Linked DNA regions of Homo sapiens. The protein of the gene in region 1 purifies or fractionates together with the protein of each later gene. This does not show direct contact. Each region holds a gene or a part of one and is shown in the gene's direction. Other genes may lie near its edges.

What was found.
Region 2: the proteins of FURIN (region 1) and PTPRD purify together in Homo sapiens (affinity purification with mass spectrometry; one large-scale study listed by BioGRID and IntAct). This does not show direct contact.
Region 3: the proteins of FURIN (region 1) and RRM2B purify together in Homo sapiens (affinity purification with mass spectrometry, with the first as the bait; one large-scale study listed by BioGRID). This does not show direct contact.
Region 4: the proteins of FURIN (region 1) and PFKL purify together in Homo sapiens (affinity purification with mass spectrometry, with the first as the bait; one large-scale study listed by BioGRID). This does not show direct contact.
Region 5: the proteins of FURIN (region 1) and GNAI2 purify together in Homo sapiens (affinity purification with mass spectrometry, with the first as the bait; one large-scale study listed by BioGRID). This does not show direct contact.
Region 6: the proteins of FURIN (region 1) and ERLIN2 purify together in Homo sapiens (affinity purification with mass spectrometry, with the first as the bait; one large-scale study listed by BioGRID). This does not show direct contact.
Region 7: the proteins of FURIN (region 1) and SLC38A10 purify together in Homo sapiens (affinity purification with mass spectrometry; one large-scale study listed by BioGRID and IntAct). This does not show direct contact.

The regions. Positions count from the first base shown.
Region 1 is NC_000015.10:90,878,588-90,881,272, forward strand, and holds part of FURIN (furin isoform 1 preproprotein), read left to right. Parts: intron 1-176; coding exon 177-389; intron 390-856; coding exon 857-957; intron 958-1,083; coding exon 1,084-1,187; intron 1,188-1,279; coding exon 1,280-1,397; intron 1,398-1,506; coding exon 1,507-1,686; intron 1,687-2,103; coding exon 2,104-2,228; intron 2,229-2,342; coding exon 2,343-2,453; intron 2,454-2,685. UniProt on the Homo sapiens protein: Ubiquitous endoprotease within constitutive secretory pathways capable of cleavage at the RX(K/R)R consensus motif. Mediates processing of TGFB1, an essential step in TGF-beta-1 activation.
Region 2 is NC_000009.12:8,485,503-8,489,002, reverse strand, and holds part of PTPRD (receptor-type tyrosine-protein phosphatase delta isoform 1 precursor), read left to right. Parts: intron 1-2,653; coding exon 2,654-3,241; intron 3,242-3,500.
Region 3 is NC_000008.11:102,225,462-102,228,961, reverse strand, and holds part of RRM2B (ribonucleoside-diphosphate reductase subunit M2 B), read left to right. Parts: intron 1-2,927; coding exon 2,928-3,044; intron 3,045-3,500.
Region 4 is NC_000021.9:44,306,553-44,310,052, forward strand, and holds part of PFKL (ATP-dependent 6-phosphofructokinase, liver type), read left to right. Parts: intron 1-128; coding exon 129-202; intron 203-707; coding exon of another isoform or gene 708-776; intron 777-3,500. UniProt on the Homo sapiens protein: Catalyzes the phosphorylation of D-fructose 6-phosphate to fructose 1,6-bisphosphate by ATP, the first committing step of glycolysis.
Region 5 is NC_000003.12:50,249,704-50,253,203, forward strand, and holds part of GNAI2 (guanine nucleotide-binding protein G(i) subunit alpha-2), read left to right. Parts: intron 1-1,916; exon of another isoform or gene 1,917-1,970; coding exon of another isoform or gene 1,971-2,040; intron 2,041-2,396; coding exon 2,397-2,439; intron 2,440-2,693; coding exon 2,694-2,835; intron 2,836-3,320; coding exon 3,321-3,481; intron 3,482-3,500. UniProt on the Homo sapiens protein: Guanine nucleotide-binding proteins (G proteins) are involved as modulators or transducers in various transmembrane signaling systems.
Region 6 is NC_000008.11:37,750,134-37,753,633, forward strand, and holds part of ERLIN2 (erlin-2), read left to right. Parts: intron 1-261; coding exon 262-353; intron 354-1,492; coding exon 1,493-1,582; intron 1,583-3,316; coding exon 3,317-3,396; intron 3,397-3,500. UniProt on the Homo sapiens protein: Component of the ERLIN1/ERLIN2 complex which mediates the endoplasmic reticulum-associated degradation (ERAD) of inositol 1,4,5-trisphosphate receptors (IP3Rs) such as ITPR1.
Region 7 is NC_000017.11:81,285,308-81,288,807, reverse strand, and holds part of SLC38A10 (solute carrier family 38 member 10), read left to right. Parts: intron 1-1,458; exon of another isoform or gene 1,459-1,463; intron 1,464-3,500. UniProt on the Homo sapiens protein: Facilitates bidirectional transport of amino acids. May act as a glutamate sensor that regulates glutamate-glutamine cycle and mTOR signaling in the brain. The transport mechanism remains to be elucidated.

The DNA.
Region 1 (2,685 bases):
TTTTGTGTGCCTAGATAGACATATTTGGATACATACTTGATCCACCAGGGATCTCACAGGGGACAGGAGGTTCCCAGAGAATGAGGCTCCAGCCTTCCCAGTTTTCCAGCAGTGTCCTCCTGCCAGCCCTCCCTCAAGTCCCAATCTTGAATGACCCCAGCCCACTCTGTCCACAGGGCCGAGGGGGGCTGGGCTCCATCTTTGTCTGGGCCTCGGGGAACGGGGGCCGGGAACATGACAGCTGCAACTGCGACGGCTACACCAACAGTATCTACACGCTGTCCATCAGCAGCGCCACGCAGTTTGGCAACGTGCCGTGGTACAGCGAGGCCTGCTCGTCCACACTGGCCACGACCTACAGCAGTGGCAACCAGAATGAGAAGCAGATCGTGAGTCTTACCTGGGGGTGGGGGCTGGGGAGATGGGGCTGCTGGCTGGCTCTGTCCAGCACCCTCTTTTGGAGGCTGTCTGCCTCCACCCCCATGTGGCTGGGTGATAGTGGCTCAGGCATCATGCAACATGAACTCTGGGGCTCTGTAGGTTCTTGGAGGCCATGGAGCCATCTCTGAAGACTTTGAAAAGCCTAGACTCTCTCTAAAAACATACTTTGTTCTTATTCATCTCCACCCTCTAGTTGAACCCCCTTATTCCTTTGGAAAATGAGGCCCAGGAGGGGCTCGTCATTAGCATGTCCACGGCAAGTTAGCAAGGCAGCAGCTGGGACCTGGGGTTCTTGGCCCTGGCTCCCCATACCATCTGTGGTGCCCAGGGCCTGTATGCAGAGGGAGGGTAGGCAGGTGGCTCCTCTAGCCCCCTCCACCCATCACAGGCCCCAATATGATTCTCTTCCTGGCAGGTGACGACTGACTTGCGGCAGAAGTGCACGGAGTCTCACACGGGCACCTCAGCCTCTGCCCCCTTAGCAGCCGGCATCATTGCTCTCACCCTGGAGGCCAAGTAAGTGGGTGGGGGCCAGCGGCAACCCTGTCCCTACCAGCACTCTCTGTAGGGCAGCCCTTAGGGCAGCTGGAGAGCTGCTCCCAAAAAAGACTGATCCCCAGCCTCTCCCTTCCTTCTTTGCAGTAAGAACCTCACATGGCGGGACATGCAACACCTGGTGGTACAGACCTCGAAGCCAGCCCACCTCAATGCCAACGACTGGGCCACCAATGGTGTGGGCCGGAAAGGTGAGGGCAGGCTGGCCCGGCAGGCTGGATGTGGAGTTAGGTAGAAGGCACTCTGTGCCTGACAGCTGACCCTACCTTCCCTGTCCCCACAGTGAGCCACTCATATGGCTACGGGCTTTTGGACGCAGGCGCCATGGTGGCCCTGGCCCAGAATTGGACCACAGTGGCCCCCCAGCGGAAGTGCATCATCGACATCCTCACCGAGCCCAAGTGAGGGCTGGACCCAGGCTGGGAGGGGGCCAGTGGGACCTGAGAGTCGCAGGGGGTGCCCGCTGGTCCCTCTGGGCCAGGCTGACCATCATGGTGCTCTCCTGCACAGAGACATCGGGAAACGGCTCGAGGTGCGGAAGACCGTGACCGCGTGCCTGGGCGAGCCCAACCACATCACTCGGCTGGAGCACGCTCAGGCGCGGCTCACCCTGTCCTATAATCGCCGTGGCGACCTGGCCATCCACCTGGTCAGCCCCATGGGCACCCGCTCCACCCTGCTGGCAGCCAGGTGCTTGCTCTGTCCCTGCCCGCCCTGCCCAGCGCCGCCGCCTCTCACAGCCCGCGTGCTTGCCTTTGCTCGCTCACACGGCCCAGGGGGCACTGAGTGCTACTCAGTGGGGCACTCTTGGCATTTTGGGAGGGACAATTTTGTCCTGTGGGACTGTCCCATGTTGCAGGAATCCCTGGCTTGCAACCATTTAATGTCAGTAGTGTGCCCCACCTTGTGCGGTGCCTGTGTACCTTTCTAGAATCCCCCAGTTGAGCACGTCTGGCTCACTGAGAAACAGCCAAGCCAGCAGGCACTTCTGGCCCCATGGGGTTGGTCTGCGTGGGGGAAGGGTGTGTGGCCCATGTGCTGTGGGTTAGATGTCCCTGGCTTGGGGTCCCGCAGAGGCCTCAGGGCTGTGTGCACTCCCCTCCCCAGGCCACATGACTACTCCGCAGATGGGTTTAATGACTGGGCCTTCATGACAACTCATTCCTGGGATGAGGATCCCTCTGGCGAGTGGGTCCTAGAGATTGAAAACACCAGCGAAGCCAACAACTATGGTACTGGGGGCACTTGAGGGGTAGGGGTACGAGGTGGAGGGCTGGCAGGATCTCGAGCACTGGGTGTGGTGCCAGCACTGTCTTAACTCTTGCCTCCTCCCCGCTCTGGAACAGGGACGCTGACCAAGTTCACCCTCGTACTCTATGGCACCGCCCCTGAGGGGCTGCCCGTACCTCCAGAAAGCAGTGGCTGCAAGACCCTCACGTCCAGTCAGGCCTGTGTGGGTCAGTAGTGGGTGCTGTTGGGCTTTGGGGGCCTGAGTCTGGGGGTAAGGCGGGTGCCTGTCCTGAAGCCCAGCTCTAACAGAAAAAAGTCTCAAGAGACCTAGGGCCCCTGGGGCTCTTGGGATGACCACAGTCCTGGGGCTGGAGGATCCTGGGGATGTGGTGACTTGGCTTGGGGCTGCTGTGGTCCTGGGGCTACAGTCTGTTTAGCTGACACACACTTGCCCTCTCT
Region 2 (3,500 bases), on another chromosome or scaffold:
GAAACAGGATACACGGTGTATATATTATTATGCAGTTCGTTGGAACTAGAATTTCAAAAAATTTTAATAAATATGTTTAATCTGTTGCCTCTGGAGAATATTGAGAATTAATAGTTGTGTTTCCACCCACTCGTTTCAACGGAGTTTCATATATTGAAGGCTGTATTCTCTGTTGAAAGCTCTATTTCACCATGGATTTTTCTCAGCAGAGACTCAGGTGTTTAATCCTTGACACCATCACTGACATTTGGACAAATCATGTAAATGCTCTATACACATAAAGGGGAATTAAAGATGTCTGCCAATGTCCCTACATTAAAGTACTATTTTAAAATTAAGATAATTGTAAATATATTAAAAGCAAGTGGAATAGTTCACACAGTTTCCAACTTATGGATGGGTGGTGTTCTGAGAGTGTGTGTTGGTCGTTAAGATCTCTGGATGCATTTTTCCTGAGGAACACAATGAGTACACAATGATGTGGTTCCTGGGCCTACCTTCAACACACATGTTTTATATATACAACACAACACACATGTTTTATATATACAACACAACACACATGTTTTATATGTATAACACAGCACACATGTTGTTGAATAATTATTTATCTAAAAACTTTAGAAACTATTGTTTTCATACATTGTAGATTAGCTGAGTTATATCAGCATGTGATGAATCTTCCCAGCATGTGAAACAAAACTGTTGCTCCATTGGTTAAGGAAATAAATATCTTAATGATATTTCTTAGAGCAGAGCACATCTCCACTTGGGTTTCACTTTCTGAAATACAAAATGAAGAGGCTAATCAGTCCATCTCTGAGGTTAATATTCTATGTATTGTCTCATAATCTTTTTAGTGATTTTTTTACCTTCATCTATATCCCCATGGTATGATTTTTTATCACCTGTTTCCCATTACTGTAAGCTTTCCTCCTTTCCTACCATCTTTCTTTTTCTTCACATTCATAATTTTGAGGCACAGTTTCACTGTCACTCAGGCTGGACAGCAATGGTGTGATCATAGCTCACTGCAGCCTCAAACTCTTTGGCTCAAGCAATTCTCCCACCTCAGCCCCCTGAGTGGCTAAGACTACAGACATGTGACACCATGCCTTCCCCCCTCCCCCCGTAGAGATAAGGTCTTGCTATGTTGCCAAGCTGTTTGTTTGTTTGTTTGTTTGTTTGTTTTTGAGACGGAATTTGCTCTTGTTGCCCAGGCTGGAGTGCAGTGGCATGATCTCGGCTCACTGCAACCTCTGCCTCCCGGGTTCAAGTGATGCTCCTGCCTCAGCCTCCCGAGTAGCTGGGATTACAGGCATGCACCACCACACCTGGCTATTTTTGTGTTTTTTGTAGAGACAGGGTTTCTCCATGTTGGTCAGGCTGGTCTCAAACTCCCAACCTCAGGTGATCCACTGCTTCCCAAAGTGCTGGGATTACTGGTGTGAGCCACCACACCCAGCCGCTGGTTTTGAACTCTTGGGCTCAAGCAGTCCTCCCACCTCAGCTCCCAAAGTGCTGGGATTATAGACATGAGCCACCATACTTGGCCTTTCTTCTTCTTTCTGTTAACTTGGTTTAGTTTTTATTCTGATGATCATCCCTCAATGTCTTTCACTGTGGATTCCAATAATAATTGCTCTCCATTAAAAATAAATACAGACATAATAATACATTGAATGAGTAGATTAGACCTTTTCACATATCTAACTTAAAGGTAAATAAATTATGTATTCATTGGAAGCTAGCCTTTCACCATAAGAAGTTTAATATTCAGATTATTAATAATTATGGTTAATATTGATAGAATGCAGAACCTCATGCTAAGACTTTTACATGAATTTCCTCATTTATTATTCATAAGAACAATATAAAATAGCTCTTAATATAATTCCCATTTTACAGATGAAGAACTTGATGAATGATGTGGATAGTAAAGTTAGAAAGTGCAAATTAAATTCATAGTAAGTCAATACGATATTATTTTGTAGTTTGGTTTTTTTTTAAACTTTTAAGCAACATAGCAGCACAATTAAGCATTTAAGCAGTCGACTCCAGACAGAGGTGGGTTTGCCTTATAGATTTCTCACTTGTTACATGCTAGCCTTGGAAAGTTTTCTACCTCTCTGGGCCTCATTTTCTCATTATAGAAGATAGAGATAATAATAACTAATCCGAGAATGTAGTGAGGAGTCAGGAATGTAAACCAATTGTGAATACTATATGCAATGCACTTAGCGTGACGCCGGTACATTGCACATATTCAACGAATAAATAATCATTATAGTTATTCTTATTAGCCATATCTAATTGGCTGATCTTTGCTCAAATTAATTTATCTTTGATATGAACCTTTATGTGTGAAGGTTTAAAACGTGCAGGTGTCAAAAAAATCCCCTTAAGCTGTTGTTTCAATGATAATTTCTGTTTTGTGTCCATTATCAAATTCTAGTATCTCAGCCTACTTTAATAAAGTAAGACAAGGAGCATATTTCCACAAAGGTATGTAGGTCAAACATTGCCTGTTTTGTTTTGTTTTGGTAAGTAAGAAAATGGGAATACCAGTAGAGTGGAACTCCCTCATTTGGCAATGACTGAAATGTGAACGTTCAGATTGGTTGGTCTTACCACTCCATCCCATGTGCTCCAGTTCCAGGGAAACCTCGGCTTGTGATTAACCACACTCAGATGAATACTGCTCTTATTCAGTGGCACCCTCCGGTGGACACATTTGGACCTCTTCAGGGCTACCGTCTAAAATTTGGCCGCAAGGATATGGAGCCACTTACTACTCTTGAGTTCTCTGAAAAAGAAGATCACTTTACAGCTACAGACATCCACAAGGGAGCATCATACGTCTTCAGGCTCTCAGCCAGAAACAAAGTGGGCTTTGGGGAGGAGATGGTGAAGGAGATTTCCATTCCAGAAGAAGTACCAACTGGATTCCCTCAAAACCTTCACTCAGAAGGCACCACTTCAACCTCCGTCCAGTTATCTTGGCAACCACCTGTCCTGGCAGAGAGAAATGGCATTATCACCAAGTATACCCTTCTTTATAGGGATATCAACATCCCCCTTCTCCCGATGGAGCAGCTTATTGTTCCAGCTGACACCACTATGACACTCACTGGCTTAAAACCAGATACCACATACGATGTAAAAGTACGTGCTCATACGAGCAAAGGGCCCGGGCCATATAGTCCCAGTGTCCAGTTCAGGACACTGCCTGTGGATCAAGGTAGGATTTGTCTGCTTACGGCCTTCCTCCTTTAAAGGATTGTCAGTCTTTGGAAATCAGTATTTTGAAGCTATAATAACTGATCAGCCCATTCATATTAATAGGTTCAGCAAAAACAAAAAGGTAAAGTATGTAAAACTTACTACGTCTTGGATGCCTTAGATTTCAGTTATAGAATGTCAAGCAAGTCTGGCTGACAGCACCCCAATGTCCTCAGGTAAGGAAAACACAATAGAGTTGGCTGAATTGGAGAGAAAGG
Region 3 (3,500 bases), on another chromosome or scaffold:
GAGTAAATAAAAGAAAGGCAAAAGACAAAGACAATTACATATTTCAACTGTTCATGAAGTTAATTATGAAAAATATTTAAAAGATTTTTTCTGACAAAATTGAAGCAGGATAGTTTCTCCGATCCCTTCGTGGGTGGGAACTGGAATGCGCATGCTGGAGCTAGCTGGCTGCTTTGGCGCTGGCAGGGGCAAACTCCACTCACTTGAACCCATTGCGCTCAGCCCCTTGAGGGAGGGAGCATGCAGGTGAGCAGGTGCAGGAGCTTGGGTGAATTCTTTTGGGCACCGGCAGGAGCAAAACTCCATGCAGGCCTCATGGCAGCATCTGTGAGGAGTACCCACAACCCTTGAAGCCCCAGAAGGAATGTGTTATAGTTAACTCTCTTTTAGCTTTTGCTGTCCGCAGATGGCTTAAGTTTTAACGGCTCAGTGGGCCCTCTGCCTTTTCACATGGGGCAGTTGGTCTCCACCAGTGAGGGCAGAGGGTCAGTGTGACAGCTTTTAGCATCCACACCTGTGGCACCCACGCTCTTGTTCAGCATCCAGGAAAAATCAGATCACATGAACAAATCGAAGGGTGGTGAATACAGAGGATTTTGTTGCCAATGAAAGTGGCTCTCAGTGGGAAGAGGAGCTGGAAAGGGGATGGAGTGGAAAAATAATCTTCTCCTGGAGTCTGTCTGGCCGTCCCCAGCTGACTCCTCTCCAAAGGAATGCTGTCAAGCTGTCCCTCTGAAGTTAAGCTGCTTCTCTCCGACATCCAACCGTAGTCTCTGACATCCAGCTGCTTCTCCTCTTCTCCTCTCCTCTTCTCTGCTGGTAGAGCCTGGGGTTTTTATGGGCACAGGGTAGGGGAGTGGGGCCATGGGTGGTTTTGGAAAGGGCAACATTATAGTGGGAAAACAGGAATACATGTCACTTTGGGCTGCAGTTCCAGGATTGAGGGTGGAGTCCTCGCTGGGGACCATCTTCTTCTGCCCAGAATTTCCCTGCCTCCTGTCCCTATCAAAATGATGTCTATATATGCTGTGTGATGGTATTTGGAGGTGGAGCCTTGGGAGGTAATTAGGTCATGTGGGTGGAGCCCTCATGAATAGGATTAGTGCCCTTAAGAGACATGAGAGATATGATCTCTCTCTCTCTGCTATGTCAGGATACAGCAAGAAGGTGGCCATCTGTAAATCAGTAAGAGGGCCTTCACCAATAACCCAACCATGCTGACATCCTGATCTTGGGCTTTCAGCTTCCAGAAATGTTCAAAAAGAAAAATAAAAGTATGCTGTTTAAGCAACCCAGTCAATGGTAATTTGTTATAGCCCCCAGAACTGACTAAGGGAAGGTACATTTAAAGACAATTTTTGGCTGGGTGCAGTGGCTCAGGCCTGTACTCCCAGCACTTTGGGAGGTTGAGGCGGGCAGATCACTTGAGCTCAGGAGTTCAAAACCAGCCTGGGCAATATGGCAAAACCCTGTCACTACCAAAAATACAAAAAATTAGCCAGGCATGGTTTTGTGTGCCTGTGGTCCCACCTGTGCCTCTGGAGGCTGAGGTGGGAGGATTGCTTGAGCCTAGGAGGCAGAGACTGTAGTGAGCTGAGATTGTGCCACCGCACTCCAGACTGGGTGACGGAGTGAAACCCCATCTCAAAAATTAAAAAAATAAACAATTTTTAAATTGTAGGTTTCACCAAATTCTAAAGTACGTCTCCCTTAATTCCAAAGACTAATTCTAATGAACATTTTCAAAAATATTTCCATTCCCAATGGAAGCCATACCTATGTATAAACTGCTTTAAAAAAAAAACTGGGTTGTTGGCCACCTGTGATGGCTCACACCTGTAATCCCAACACTTTGAGAGGCTGAGGTAGGAGGATTGCTTGAGGCCAGGAGATTGAGACCAGCCTGGGCAACATAGTGAGACCCCATCTCTTTAAAAAAACAAAACAAGGCCAGCTGTGGTGGCTCGTGCCTGTAATCCCAGCACTTTGGGAGGCCGAGGCAAACAGATCATGAGGTCAAGAGATTGAGACCATCCTGGCCAACATGGTGAAACTCCGTCTCTACTAAAAAATACAAATAATTAGCTGGGCATGGTGGCGCCTGCCTGTAGTCCCAGCTACTCGGGAGGCTGAGGCAGGAGGATTGCTTGAACCTGGGAGGCGAAGGTTGCAGTGAGCCAAGATCATGCCACTGCACTCTAGCCTGGCGACAGAGCGAGACTTCATCTCAAAACAAAACAAAACTCAGGTTGTTACCTGCCTGGCATTACTTCTGGATGTAAAAGTAGACTGATTACCTGGCAGTAAAGTAGCAGCTACAGTTGGTTAATAGGTGCCTAATTATCTAACACCATAGCACATATTATATAAAATGTTAAAGCAGTGACTGTTGAGATTCATTAGTTTATTTACTTCAGTGCCTTCTTGACTAGTTTTTACTCTCCCCCCTCCCCTTTTAGCCCTTCTTTCATTTGCTTCAGTGCCACTAGATTATGTTAATTTGAATATTTTTAAAGTACATCCTGGCCAGCTTCTTAATTAGCCAGAAAATTCGATTCCATCTTAATTTTTTAAAGATAAATTTTATTGTGTATGTTTAAGGTGTATGACATGATGTTATATATATATATATATAATAAAATGGTTACCCATTATGTAACAAATTAATATTTCCTTTGCCTCACATAGTTTAGCTGTTCACCCCCCCACCAAGAATAGCTGTAATCTACTCATTTAACAAAAATCCTGAATATAATACACTTGTTAACATAACTTTTTTTTTTATTTCTTTGCAGTGCTAACATCTTTCTTTTTCCATAGTTTACTGGTAGTGGGATATTCCTACTTAACAATAGAAGTTAGTTTCCCAAACACTTTGAGAAGAACTTAACTCCAAATTAAAATTTTTGAAAATCTTTTTATTCCAGGTCGACTTATCAAAGGATCTCCCTCACTGGAACAAGCTTAAAGCAGATGAGAAGTACTTCATCTCTCACATCTTAGCCTTTTTTGCAGCCAGTGATGGAATTGTAAATGAAAATTTGGTAAGATTTTTGCTTGATTTAACTTTTGTTCTCCTTTAGCAGTTAAATGATGATAATGTCAGTAAGATTATTAAATTCAGCCAAAGACAAGATGTCTAAAAAATGAACTAGATGAAGCTTAACTCTTTAAATGTTTTTCTGATGAATTGCTTATCCTTTGACCAGCAAACTATTATTAAATCAAGCATAAATGATATGAATCAAAACTATTTACAGTGCATTAACATGAGTTTGATTTTTACTCTCAGATAGTAAGCTTAATAGAGAACCTGCACCTTAACCTTTGGAGCTCTGTAATAGAACACTGGATTCTGGCTCCCCATTTTAAAACTTGATTATGGTTGATCAGGAGGCATAATTTCTTTTTAAAAAGAATTAGAAAGATAGGCCGGGTACGGTGGCTCATACCTGTAATCCCAGCACTTTGGGAGGCTGAGGTGGGCGGATCACGAGGTC
Region 4 (3,500 bases), on another chromosome or scaffold:
CCACCACCCGCCCTCTGAGATGGACAGGGTGTCCAGGCCTCCCCTACCCCCTGTCCTCTGAGATGGGGAGGGTGTCCAGGGCCTTGCTTCTCAGCGTGGGACTGACAGGTTTGCCCTGACCTCCACAGGCATGAACGCTGCTGTCCGGGCTGTGACGCGCATGGGCATTTATGTGGGTGCCAAAGTCTTCCTCATCTACGAGGTAAGGCCAAGGTGGGCTGTGTGTGTGCAGGGAGTGGGGACCTCCTGAGGCGCATGCCGAGGTGTGTTCTGTGTGGGTCACACTGGGAGACGGGGTGGTCCTGGCCTGGAGGAGCTGATGGGTATGTGGTCTTGGGGAGTGTGAGGGGGAGCTTGGGGCCAGGCCAAAGGCATCTGCAGAAAGAAGACCTACTGCCTTGGGACTCAGCCCGGCTGGAGGCTCAGAGGCTGCAGAGCACGGGCCTGGGGGCAGGGAAGGAGCTGGGTGGACAAGGAGTCGAGGCCCTGCCTACAGTGATCGCTGACGGGCCAGGCCCCACCCACCACACCCCTGCCTGGTGTCCCCCAGCCTGGCCCTTGTCCCGCCCCGAGGCCTCTGTGAGTGGGGGCCAGGGACCTCACCGCCTCTGCCCTTGTCCTCCCCAGCCTCCTGCCTCACCACCCAGACCCGGGGGGCAGCCGCTGGCAGCAGCTCTGCTGTGTCTATGTTCATTGTGTCCCCGCAGGAGCAGCGGATGCCCTACTGCCTCAGCCCCAGTCCCCGTGGGAGATTTGGGGCTCGCCCTCCGTCCTGGGTATTTACACACCCACACTTGCGCTCACACATGTGCACACACAGGCGCATTCACACACTTGGGCCACACCACGCACTCACAGGCTGCATTCTTGCCTTGTCAGGTGGTTTTCCACATTCCACAAGACAAGGTCTTTTGTTATTTTGTTGCCACTTTTTATGTAATATGTAGCTGTTTATATAAAATGTAGCAACCCCAGCTCTGCAGCCCCAGGCACTCAGCCCCACCCCCCTCACTGCTCACTGCTCGCTGCTGACCACTCACCGCCCTGGGTCTCAGTTCCCCCATCTTGGCCCCAGGGAACAGCAGCCTGTCCAGCCCTCCCTCTGCAGGACTGTGTGAATGAATGAGTGAGTGGGCAGTCTGTGCTGGCCCGTCCTCTCCCTGTGGCCAGGCTGGGGCCCTGCCAGTATTGGATTAGGAAGCAGGTCTCAGAGCCCTGGGGAGCTGGGTGTGGGGGCCTCTCTAGGCAGGCTGGGCTGTGTCCGTACAAACCCCTCCTGCCACCTGCTCGACCTTCAGTTTCTTCTTCTAAGTGGCAAAGGGGAGAAATTAGGGTTTTCCGGAACCCCCACACATTTGTGGTTGGGAAAGACTCCTGTGGCAAAAGACAGAAAACAGGTTCATCGGTGCAGGGCGTGTCCTGGAAAAGGGGAGAAGAGGCACTTTGCCGTGCCTAGAGTCCTGGCTTCTGCAGAGCCCAGCAGAGACCAGTGCACATGGAGAAGCCGAGGGGTACAGGGACGCAGCGTGAGGCCCTCGGAGGTGGGGGAATGCAGGAGGGTGAGTTTATGGGAAAAAGAATGAAGTGGGTGGGCGCGGGTCCTGGGGCTGTCTCTGGGTCCTGAGGGCTGTGAGGGGCATTTACATCCTGTCCAGGCGGTAACAGGAGGAGCCTTAGTCTTGGGATGCTGTGTGCTGCTTTCCTCTCAAAGGGAGGCAAGGCTGAGAGCTTCCCTGAATCTGCTGCCTAGTGGGCTTTAGCTCAGAAACATCCACATCTAAGAGGCAGATTTTGAGATGAGACATTCTGATATAGCGGCCCAGGGAAGACTTCCCCTCCGTCCCATGAAGGTTCTTGGAAGAATCCACTTGCGAAAAGCGGATTAATAGGGCAGAGGTGCTGGCATTCATTGTGAATAGGCATGGAGAGGTAGGGCGAAGATGCTGACCTGCCCTCCTCCCAGGGAAAGGGGCATGGGCAGCCTGGATGATTCTAGGGGGGTAGGAATTTTTTTTTTTTTTTTTTTTGAGACAGAGTCTCATTCTGTTGCCCAGGCTGGAGCGCAGTGGCACAATCTTGGCTCGCTGCAACCTCTGCCTCCCAGGTTCAAGCAATTTTCCTGCCTCAGCCTCCTGAGTAGCTGGGATTACAGGCACCCACCACCACGCCCAGCTGTTTTTTGTATTTTTAGTAGAGACGGGGTTTCACCATGTTGGCCAGCCTGGTCTCGAACTCCTGGCCTCTGGTGATCCACCCGCCTCTGCTTCCCAAAGTGCTGGGATTACAGGCGCGAGCCACTGTGCACGGCCATGAATGGTTTTTAGGGGATTCAATGGGCTTGGACAGCATCTGTTAGCCCTGGTGACCACCTGCCCAAGTGTGTTGGCAGACACAGGTCTTTCTTCCTACGATGACCTCAGTGCATGGAAACTCAGGGAGGGGACTGGCCGTCACTGTTCCTTTCTCCAGCAGCTATGGGCTTTAGGCAGATTCGGGGGCTTCAGGGAGCAGCTGCATCCTGAGCTTGGAGGAGGCAGAGGGTCGAGAGGCAGAAGGGGGAGGTCAGGGAGACCTGCGGCTGCGTCAGTTCACATCAGACTGCATTTTGGGTTTCTGAGCCCCCAGCGCTGGCTTCCTTCAGCAGGGAGACCGATCCCTTCTCCTTGGGGCTATTGTTAGGGCAGAAAGGGAGGGTGGCCTTGGAGGTGAAAACCCTTCTCAGTTCTGACACAAAGGAGGGCTCAGAACAGGCTACTCTTATCCCCCCAGGCAGAGCCCACAGCATAGCAGGGAGGGCCCTGAGCCTGGGTCCAGGCCTGCAGGGGTGAGAGGAGGGGGCGGGGCTAGAGGGGAAGGAGGGGAAGGTGAGCTGGGCCTAGGAGGACAGAGACGGAAACAGAGTGGGTAGAGGGGGGCAAACAGCTTCTAGAAGATTCCAAGGGTAGGAGGAGGTTGTGTCTGTGAGACTGATTCCAGCAGAACTGAGCCACTGGCCTTGTGGGGTCTCTGGGGACTGCTGGGCTGGCCATACCTGCCTGCCCCTCCGCCCAGTGGGGCAGGGGCCTGGCTGGCGCCTGGGCTCTGTATTGGATCCTGAGTTTTGCAGACAGACCTGTGTTTGGTGGCCTCCTGCTCAGGTGGGGCTGTGGGTTTGGGATCATTTTCCTGTTTTCCTTGTTCCTAGCTCAGGGCTGGTACAACCAGAGGGGGCCAGGCTGGCCTGGCCTGAGCCGGAGGAAGTAGCTCTGTGGTCCCTCAGATCAGCCCCTGAGATGGGGCAGGGGCACCTGTCCCCCAGCCCAGCTGGTGGGGAAGGGAGGCTGTCAGGCTAGAAGCCCGCCATGGCCAGAGTGGGGATGTTCATGCGCCCCGCAGCGCGCACTATCCCTTGACCCCCTGCCTGCTTGAGGCACTTGCCCTCCTGGCCCCCAGGGCCCTGACACCTGGTTGGGGAGAAGGCGGAGGGAGGAGCAGAAGCCCACAGCTGAGCTGGCATCCGC
Region 5 (3,500 bases), on another chromosome or scaffold:
CCCAACTAGCTGTCACTCCCCATCTCCCCAGATCCCCTCCCCTCATCCTGGAAAGCAGGCCTGGGACAGTCAGAAGCTCAGTGATTGCAGGCGCCTGATGGCATTTGTGAGGAGGGCTCAGGCCTTTCCCCTCAGGGTGGTCTCTGGCGTAGGGGGCTGAAGGTGGGCAGGGGCCTTGGCAAGGCCTGCCACCATGTCCCAATGCCTGCTGCCGCTTGTTGAGCACTGCAGACATGGCCCAGAGTCTGCCTGGGGAGCTAGGGAGTGAACCCAGTGCCAGGTGGACTGTGTGGCTCCGCTGCAGTACCAGGTACTTAGGACAGCTCTAGGAGGGACTGCACGGTGGGCAAGTGTGCTCCCTGCAGAGGGGACTCTAACCCTGTGACCTCAGCCTCCCTGGACCTCAGTTCCTTCACTGGTTAGATTGGGGTGAGAATGGAACCTACCTCCCAGGATTGCTGTGGAGATGGCAGTTGGTGGGTGTCATTGATGTAGAGCAGCATCTGGCACATGGTGGGCGCTGTTTTCATATAGCTTTGCTGTCGATATTGCCGATGTTATTGTTACTGCTTGTGTTCGTTTGTGTGTTAGCACCTTCATCCTCTGAGGTTGTTTTGACCAGCCCCAAGGGATGCTGTTGAGCTTGGCCAGAGTACCCAAGTTTGACCTCTGCACAGACCTTACTACCCACCCAGCTAAGCTGCACAGAGGAACAAACGTGCCACAGTGATCAGAATTGGGACACTGTGAATGGGGCATGGGGCACGTATTCCCGGCAAAGAGAACAGCATGAGCAGGGCCCTGGAGATAGCTAGAGGTAGTGCCTGGCAGCTGCAGGTGTGACTGGCAGTGATGGAGCAGGAGCACAGGGTCTGGGAAGGACAGCAGGGCCCAGCTGGGGGCCATTCAACCTGGAGCTCAAGACAAGCCAGCAGCAAGGGAGCAAGGTCAAGGTGAGGCCCTGCCTCCACTCCCTCTGGCCCCCAGCCAGGGAGTTGGGTGGCCCCCCTGGTCCTTCTTTACACAGACTCCCTGGGTAATACAGGCTCCTGGGCTGCACTCCTCAAGATCTGGCTCTGTTGTCTGGGATGGGACCTGGGAGTCTGCTTTTTTTTTTTTTTTTTAGACCAAGTTTCGCTCTTGTTGCCCAGGCTGGAGCGCAATGGCACAATCTCGGCTCACTGCAACCTCCACCTCCCAGGTTCAAGCGATTCTTCTGCCTCAGCCTCCCGAGCCGCTGGGATTACAGGCACCTGCCACCACGCCTGGCTAGTTTTTGTTATTTTTAGAAGAGATGGGGTTTCAACATGTTGGCCAGGCTGGTCTCGAACTCCTGACCTCAGGTGATCCACCTGCCTCAGCCTCCCAAAGTGCTGGGATTACAGGCATGAGCCACCACTCCCGGCGGAATCTGCTTTTTTAAACACCTCCCCAAGGCATTGTCCCGCAGGGTCTCAGCCACATTTTGAGAATGGCAGGGTGGACCAGGCATCATGGGTTCCCTCCACCCTCTTGCCCTTCTGAGTCCTGGCTACATGATCTTAGATCAATACTTTATTTTTCTGAGCCTCAATGTCCTCATCTGTAGAATGGGAACAGAAACAGTATCTGCTGTGACTAATACAGGAGAGAATGCAGCAAATCTCAGTACCAGCTAAAGAGAAATATGGGCCAGGGCTGTACCAGGCCAGGGAAAAGCTTGAGTCAGTATGGGCGTGTGTGGGTGTGGGTGTGTGAGATACGCCGCAGGTCTCCCAGATTCATGAGTCAGTACGCGTGTGTGTTACACTGTAGGTCTCCTAGATTCTAGCCTTCTAGCCTCCATCTGCTCAGGGCAGACCTGAGCGCAGTGAGCAGAGGGCGGGGCATTGGGCCATGTCCAGAAAGCTGAAGTGTGACGCTGTGCTCCTGCTTAGGCCCCTGGTTGCTAAGGCTCAGTGTGGGGAGAAGAAGGGCTGCTACCCTGTTGGATGGAGTATGCAGGGCATCTTCCTGCCAGCTCTGCCCAGGGCACCATATTGGCATGCACCAGCTGCACAGGTTGGCGAGCCTATGTATGTGAGAACAGGGTGGCTCCTTCATGGCTGGCCAAGTCTCCAGCCAAGACCCCCCAGGACAGTGGGGAGCCATGGTGGGCAGCAGAGCTTGTGGGAGGCAAAGGCCTGCAGAGAGTCTGCCATGGGGCACAGGTGCTCTAGGTTACCTTGACCACTGTGGCCCTGCCAGCTGCATTCCTGGTAGCTCAACTGCCCACCAGGCCCAGCTGCCTCCATCTCACGGTGCAGCTGGTGGGAAGGTTAGTTCTGCCTCCTGGGCTACAGGTGTCTGGGCATTTGTTCTGTGCCTGTGGAGCCCCTCTGGGCCTGCCCCCTGACCACCTGTGCCCTCTGTTCCAGGTGCTGGGGAGTCAGGGAAGAGCACCATCGTCAAGCAGATGAAGTAAGTGCTGTATTCCAGAGGCAGTGCTCAAACTCCAGCTTCCCCTCTTCACCCTCTGGGCCTGCACTGCCCCCGACTACAGGCCCAGCCAGTCTTAGCCAGGCCCAGAATCTTCTGAGAAGCAGAAGGACCCTCAGGTCCCAGTGGGTCAGGGGCAGTTTTCCCTTCTCTGAAGCAGGTCCCAGTAGCCCCAGGCAGCCGTGGGAACTCCCAGTGCCCAGGGGACACTAACCTTCCTGGTCCCTGGCTATCAGGATCATCCACGAGGATGGCTACTCCGAGGAGGAATGCCGGCAGTACCGGGCGGTTGTCTACAGCAACACCATCCAGTCCATCATGGCCATTGTCAAAGCCATGGGCAACCTGCAGATCGACTTTGCCGACCCCTCCAGAGCGGTATGTGCCCTCCGCCCCACCCTCTCCCACCTCCCAAAAGGTTTCGGGGTGGCTGGTTGTGGTGGCTCATGCCTATAAATCCCAGCACTTTGGGACGCCGAGGCGGGTGGATCACCTGAGGTCAGGACCAGCCTGGCCAACTTGGTGAAACCGCGTCTCTACTAAAAATACAAAAATTAGCCGAGCATGGTGGCACGTGCCTGTAATCCCAGCTACTTGGGAGGCTGAAGCAGGAGAATTGCTTGAACCCGGGAGGCAGAGGATGCAGTGAGCCAAGATCGCCCCATTGCACTCTAGCCTTGGTGACAGAGCTAGACTCCGTCACAGAAAAAAGTAAACAACAACAACAAAAAGGTTTTAGGGCAAGTCTCATCCTAGGGAATCCAAGAATACCCTAGCCTGGGCCCCATTCCAGAGGTCTCCCTGCCTCTGGCAGAGTGGGGGTACATTCCTTCAACTGCCTGACCACCCGCCACTGTGCCCAGGACGACGCCAGGCAGCTATTTGCACTGTCCTGCACCGCCGAGGAGCAAGGCGTGCTCCCTGATGACCTGTCCGGCGTCATCCGGAGGCTCTGGGCTGACCATGGTGTGCAGGCCTGCTTTGGCCGCTCAAGGGAATACCAGCTCAACGACTCAGCTGCCTAGTGAGTGCTCTGAGGGGCT
Region 6 (3,500 bases), on another chromosome or scaffold:
CAGGAGCAAGAGACCAGTAAGTGGACAGGCAGGTGTATTTTACTAAATTATGTTTTATTTCCCACAAATGAGTTACTTGGGAGGAGAAGAGCTATGTTACTGTCAACAACAGATCAGCTTTTACCTGGGCCATCGAACAGCCTTCCAGGAGGAGTAGGAAATGGGAGTTTGCCTCTCTTCAGCAGAAGAATTCGACTTACCTGGGGATAGTGAAGCTCCTGAGTTTTCCATAGCTGCCTCACGGCTTTTTCTTCTCTTCAGGGAAAGTGAGAAGACAAAGCTTCTCATTGCCGCCCAGAAACAGAAGGTGGTGGAAAAGGAAGCAGAGACAGAGCGGAAGAAGGCGCTCATTGGTCTGAATGTGGTTCTGTGATCCCCCTTTCCAGGCAGAAAGGCTGGGGGTGGTGGGAAGATGCAAGGAGGCTAAGGCCTGGTGAGACCCCATGGTCCTCCAAACCACTTCCACAGCACAGGAGTGGCAGGTGGACTCCCAGAAACAAAGTTGAAATTGTCAGATCATGGCCAAGGATAATGAGTTTTTTGAGTTTCCACTTAACTCTTAAATGAAAGAAGCCCCACCTGTTAATTCTTTCTTTTTTTTTTCTTTTGAGACGGAGTCTTGCTCTGTCACCCAGGCTAGAATGCAGTGGCACGATCTCAGCTTACTGCAGCCTCTGCCTCAGGTTCAAGTGATTCTCCTGTCTCAGCCTCCTGAGTAGCTGGGATTACAGCGGGTGCCGGCACGCCTGGCTAATTTTTGTATTTTTAGTAGAGATGGGGTGTCACCATGTTGGCCAAGCTGGCCTCGAACACTTGACCTCATGATCTGCCCACCTCAGCCTCCCAAAGTGCTGGGATTACAGACGTGAGCCACCGTGCCCAGCCTGTTAATTCTTAATAATAATGGCTAATACTTAATTAAGCAATTACTGTGAGCCACATACTTTTCTAACCACTTAATATGTGGGTTAAGTCAACCCTCACAACCACTGTGGAGGTAGGTACTGTATTATCCTTAACCTCATTTTATCGAACCAAAGCACAGAGGGGTAAAATACCATGCCCAAGGGCATATGGCAAGTAAGGGGTGGAACTGGGGTTCAAACCAAGGACACTGGCTCTAGAAGCTATGTTCTAAGTCACTGCACCGTATTATCAACAACTAACCTGACCCCTGTCTACAGTGAAGGGCCAGGTAGAACCCTACTAGAGTACTTCATTCTTACAGAATATTCCTTTGGGAGAAGTTCCCTTGTGAAGTTAGGGCTCATGCTTCCTATGTTGGGCCCAGGTCTCCTTGGTTACTGTCTCACACTGATGGAAGGGGACTGTGCTCACTGGCATATCCCACTCTGCCCTTGTGTGCACTCACAGCTGCCCTCTGGGGGCTCTCCAGACAAGCTGGCCCACCAGGACACTCAGCTCGGGTGAAAGGTGAAATTAGTCAAACTCTGAAATGCCAGAACCGTAATCCTCACTATCATTTATTCAGAGGCAGAAAAAGTGGCCCAGGTGGCTGAGATCACCTACGGGCAGAAGGTGATGGAGAAGGAGACTGAGAAGAAGATTTCAGAAATTGAAGGTAAGCAGAAGTGGCAGTCATGCCTGAGTCCTCCTCAGACCCCGCCCTGTGGCCAGTGGGTTGGGGAGCCATTGCCTTTGCCCTTTAACTGTGCTCAAGGATGTCATGATCTCTGTGCAACAGCAGCTTTTCTCCATGTGGAGACTTGAGTTTTGAGGCTATTGTGGCCAGGCTAGCATCTGTTTTCTACTTCAGAGAGCATTTGTTCATTCAGCAAATGTGGCTGGAGTGCCAGTATGTGCCCAGGATTTTGTTAGGCATGAGAAAAAGGAAGTCCCGTAGACCCTGCTTTCTTGGAGTTCCCAGGCTAGCAGGGCCTTGGAGCGGTGGGAGTGTACTCTCAGCAGTTGGCTCTCCCCCTTGCCTTAGCTACTTCTGCTCCAAAGTTGGTCAGTGCCACGGTTTTGGGCTCAAAGTCTGTTCTCCAGGTCTATGCAGATATTAAGCCAGGTTTGAAGAAGACAGATTTTCAGCACCTGTCAGACAGGAGCTGGAGAGAAAGGTTTTCTTTGCTGGCTTTTCTGAATATCATTCACCTTCTGTTCCTGCTTCTAAGCCTGCACCTCCTTCCCACTGCCCACCTCTTACTTCTTGGGGTGGCTTATTTCAAGCAAATTCCAAGGCACAACTGGGACCTCAAGGCCCAGCTTCAGGCTACAAAGTGTTATGTCTAATTATACTCATTATTGGGCCTGTCAGGCTTTGCAGGGGCCCATAGAGGAGCCAGTTAGGATTTCACAGATCAGTGGCTCCTCATTAGGGAGCTCTTAGCAAAGCAACACGTTTTTATTTCTCACAAATACATGTCATCAAGTGCTCAGGCCAGCTGAGGGGGCCCCACAGCAGCCAGAACCCTGGCTGGACTGCAGGTTCCTTCCACGCGGGGTCACACTGAGGGCACTCAGTGAAAACCCACCCACAGACTAACCTTTCTCCCAGGCATGTTGCTACATATATTACTCACATGAGGCTGGCCCGTTCCCAAGACAAGGAGGTAAATATCAAAAATTTTCTATCAGCTTGACAGAAAGCTAGTCTCAGAGCTGATTAGGGAAGAATATGACTTGCATAGAGGAATTAAATAGGTCTTAATCCAAACACGTGTTGGTCTGGACCATGGCGTGTAATTCTCTCTCAGAATCGCGCCAGCTTAATCACTGTTAATTAGGACCTTTTTGAAATGATTGATGGAAATAAAAGGGAATTGAAGTTGGAGAGGGACTGAACTATGTTATGTTCGTGGCATTCAGTTTTAGGGTGGATCGACCTCTGACCGTACTTAGAGCCACCTTTGAGCTTTCCTGCTTTTGCTATGTAGCACAAGAGGGAGGAGTGGAGAGCTCTGGCCTAGAGCTTGAGGCAGGGTCCCACTGCTGTGCTACACAGACATGGATCTCCAAAAGAAGTAAGACAGGAAGCGCTTCTGGCTAACAGTGCTTTCTTCCATAGTGCTGTCAACATGTATGTTTGGGCCATAGCCACAGACTTGCTGTCCTTGTCATAGGGAGATGCTTTCAAAACACTTTTTCATCTTAGTTGATCCTTACAACAACTTGTACAATAGGGGAAAATGCATGTAAAACACAGAGGAAAAAGCAGTCTGCCCCAAGTCACAGAGGCAATCAGGGGCGAAGTTCCAGGGACCAGAACAGAGTCTTCCCATAGCCTCTGCACTTCCTGCAAAGAACTCAGTTTTAGCACTTCACCAAGTTCACTGCACTCCTTCCCCCTCAGATGCTGCATTTCTGGCCCGGGAGAAGGCAAAGGCAGATGCTGAGTGCTACACTGCTATGAAAATAGCCGAAGCCAATAAGGTAAAGACCCCGCACAGCCTGATAAAAAGGAGTCTTTGGGTCTGGGTCTGTATTGCAGGAGAGTTTCCAGTGTTGAGCGCCTGCCACCACCCAAAGCCCTTCAT
Region 7 (3,500 bases), on another chromosome or scaffold:
CCCCAACTCGGAATTCCATGGAGGAAGCTCCTCAGGCCTGGGCTGTTGCTGGAGTTCAGTGGCTCCTCTCCCAGTGGCTGTGTCCTTCCCCTGATGCTGTTGGTTGCAGTTTTGTTTCCCTTAGTTCTTTCTTGCTTTAATGCTGTTTCAGCCAGGAGAGAAGGCTGCGCTTTCTGCTTCATTTCAGTGTGGAATATTTTCTACGTTGTTTGTCTTCGAGGGCGCCATCCCTCACCTTCCCGTCTGCCCACAGGCTGTGTGGCCCGCGCTGTCTCCCTGCCCGCCACAGGCTCGGCACCTCTCGGCTCCACGTTCCATTCTGGGGGCATCCAGCCTGGGTGTTGAAATTCCAGCATCCGTGTTCTCAGGAGTTGGCCCTGTGGGTTTTGGTGAAAACTCTGGCCTTGTGATGAAGGCTCTGGACCTTCCAGCCAGTGTGCGGCTGGGATGTTAGGTCCTCCCTGCAGAAGGCCATCCTGCCCCCCGGGCTCACAGCTCCCGCGGCAGAGTGAGGAGGTGGCGGGAGAGGAAATGGTGTTTAGGGGTCCAGGGGGCCAAACAAAATAAAAACACCTGCACGGTCCACACGTGGGTCCTGGCCTCCCAGCCTCCACTTCCTCCCAGTCCCCTTCATGTTGCCACAGAGAGTCCTGCGTTCGTTTCGGCCCTCAGAACCGGAGGGGATGTATTCCTTCTCCTCCCTTCCTGATGAGAATGGTGCTGTCAGAGTCTTTTCTTGTTGTTATTTGAGGAAGTGAAGTTCACTGTTAAGTTTGATCCACAGTGAGATGGCCTAATGCAACTTGGGCTGAAAGATGCCTACCGGATGCCAGGAGGCACCGTGCCTGGGCGGGCCCCTTCCTGGGTCTGCAGAGCTGTGGCCTGCAGGGCGACCCTTTTCTCCTCACTGAGGTCTCTGTATAGGGTTTCTGTAGCAGAGGCCCCAACTCCAGTCCTTGGCTGTGTCCTGGAAGAAGACCGGTGACCCAGGGCTGGGGAGGCCCCCATTTCTGATAGCCAGCTGTCTATTCATTCAAAGTCCCTGAAAAGTCAAACCAGTTTGGCTACATGTGAAGGACTGGAAGAAAATTGCCGGGTGGGTGCTCTTCTGTGCTGCCTGGAACTCCTGCCTGAGCTTCCAACCTTTACCTGCATGGGGTGACCGCAGTCCACTTCTGCCTGCCAGAAACAAAAAAGATTCCAAAACACCAAGTGTGTCTCAGGTTATGCCTTTGACACCAAACACGGTGGTTCCACTGCGTGAGCTCCGGACAGAGGCCCCTGGGCCCAGCTGCTCCGCGTCAGCTGCAGTGTGCCCTGGCTCGTCTTAGAAGTGGGGAGACCCGCGCTGGGAGAGGCGTCCCTGGGGAGGGTAAGATGAGACTCTCCTGGAGCTGAGGCGAGGCCCTTGTGCAGAGTGGACAGCAGCTCCACACTGCAGTCTTCAGGAGGCGCCGGGCTGGGTCCCGTCCTCGCACACAGACTGACTTTCCCTGGGACGGCTGGGTGGTTTCCTCCGAATGGCATCTGCCCCCACCCAGGCATAGGTTTGCGGTGTAATGGTTCCTCGGGTTGGTTAGCCTGGGGAGGTGGCCGCTGATCGCTTTACCCTCCCCGCTGTCCTCCAGTGCCATGTGCCAGCCTGGAGAGGTGTCGTTTTTTGTTGGTGTTTGTATATTTCCCTGTCCTATTTGCTGTTGCTGGTTGCAGGTGGTTTTTGTCGTTTTCGTCACCTTCTCACTTGCTGCTTCCTTGCCCTGCGTGTCTTGCTTGGACATGGACTTTTCTAAATCCCCTCTTCAGAAGACACACAGATACATCAGTCATTCAGCCTCCTTCAGCTGTCGCGGCTTCTCATGAAGCTGTTCTGAGCCCCAGACCCTGCCCTGTTGAGAGTTGTGCCTGAACCCTGGCATGCGTGGTCTGGGCTAGAAACCGCCTCCCCCAGCAGCAGGGACTGTTTGGCCCCCACGCGGCCTCTGAGTTCTCGGTTGTGAGCAGCGGTGTCAGGAGTGCTGCCCGCGTCCTTTCGTTGGGTGGTCCAGGCTTCTGTGGCTCCTGTGCTGGCTCTGGGGGAGATCTGACTGCACCTGGGGTAGGGTACACCCTGCATGGAGGCCGCGCCCTCAGAGCTCGCCGCTCACAGATACCTCCAGCCTGGCAGGGGCTGGGCCCGCACTGGGAGTCCACACTCGGGGGAGGGCTGGGTCCCCGGGACCTTGCTGGGCGCTTCAGCCTCTTCCTCCCTTTCTCTGTGCCAGTCCACGCAGGATGTGAAGGAGTGGGGTCAGTCCAACTGGGGCTGGTGTTTGAACCTGGGGAGGAGAAGTTGCCGAGGGATTGACACTGGGAATGGCGGGTGAGGGTTTGGCCCAGGTGGGGAAAAGAAGGCGCGTGGGGCCGTGTCTCAGCGTGGTGGGCTCTCAGGACGTTGTCCTGGGAACCAGAAGAGAGTGCTGCCCTGATTTCCTAGACAGCCTCCCATTTTCCCTTGCCAGTGGCAGGCATATTCCGGAACCTTCTTGGGCAAGGTGCGCTCGTGTTTGGAATATGCTGTAGAGACTCAGCTTCCTTTTGGAGAATGAAAAGGCACATTATGGCCAGGAGCAACTTCATGTTTGGAGCGCCGTGTTTTGTTGCTTCCGGGCTGTGCCGTCACTGAGGGGTGTGGAGGGCGTTCCTTGGTGACAGCAGGGCCCTGGGCTGTGGGCTGCTGAGGGGGCTCCTGGAGTTCTTAGTGTTTGAAACTCTCCACAGCCTCAGGTCAGCTTCTGGGGCCTGGCTCGGGTTTCCGTGTTGTGGGATGAACTCAAGGGGTGCCAGGCTTCTTCAGCGAGCCCATAGGCAGGTCCAGGAAAGGCCAGGGTGAGCCCTGGAGGTGGGGTCTTTGCTGCTCCCGGGCTCTGGCGTTTGGCAACGCTGTGCTTCTTCCTAAGTAGTTTAAAGTAATAAGGAGTGTTTTTTGGACCCATTCATAGTTACTAGCCTGTGTGTTTCCTGCTTTCCAAAGCTCATCAGAGGCCTGTAGCCCGTGGGAGGAAGGAAACCAGGGGCAGGAAGCTGGGGCTGCCGACGGGGCTGGGCCATCCTGCCACATGCACCGCATCTCTGGGTGCGCCTTGGAGCCGGGACTTCCCTTTGCCCTTCTCCGGCTGGGCCGTGGGGGAAGCGCGGGGGTCACCAGATGACCGCTCGGGGCCTGGGAGGGACCCTGCTGAGTCAGCGCCGTTTCTCATCTGCTGCAGAGAATCCCGCGGTCAGGGCGGAGAGAATGGCGGCTCCTTCCGCATTCGGCCGCCCCGTCGGGAACGCATGCTCCTCATCGGCAAGGCTCCTCATTAGCTGTCCACGTGGACACCACAAGCCCAGGGCTCTCGTCCCCTCCCTTCCTGAAGCACCATGCTCGAAAGGAGTCTCCATTTGTTTCTATAAATCCCAACCAAAGGGTGAAAATGAAAGCCCTCCGTCAGAGTCCCTCTGGTGCAGGCTGTGGCGCTCGG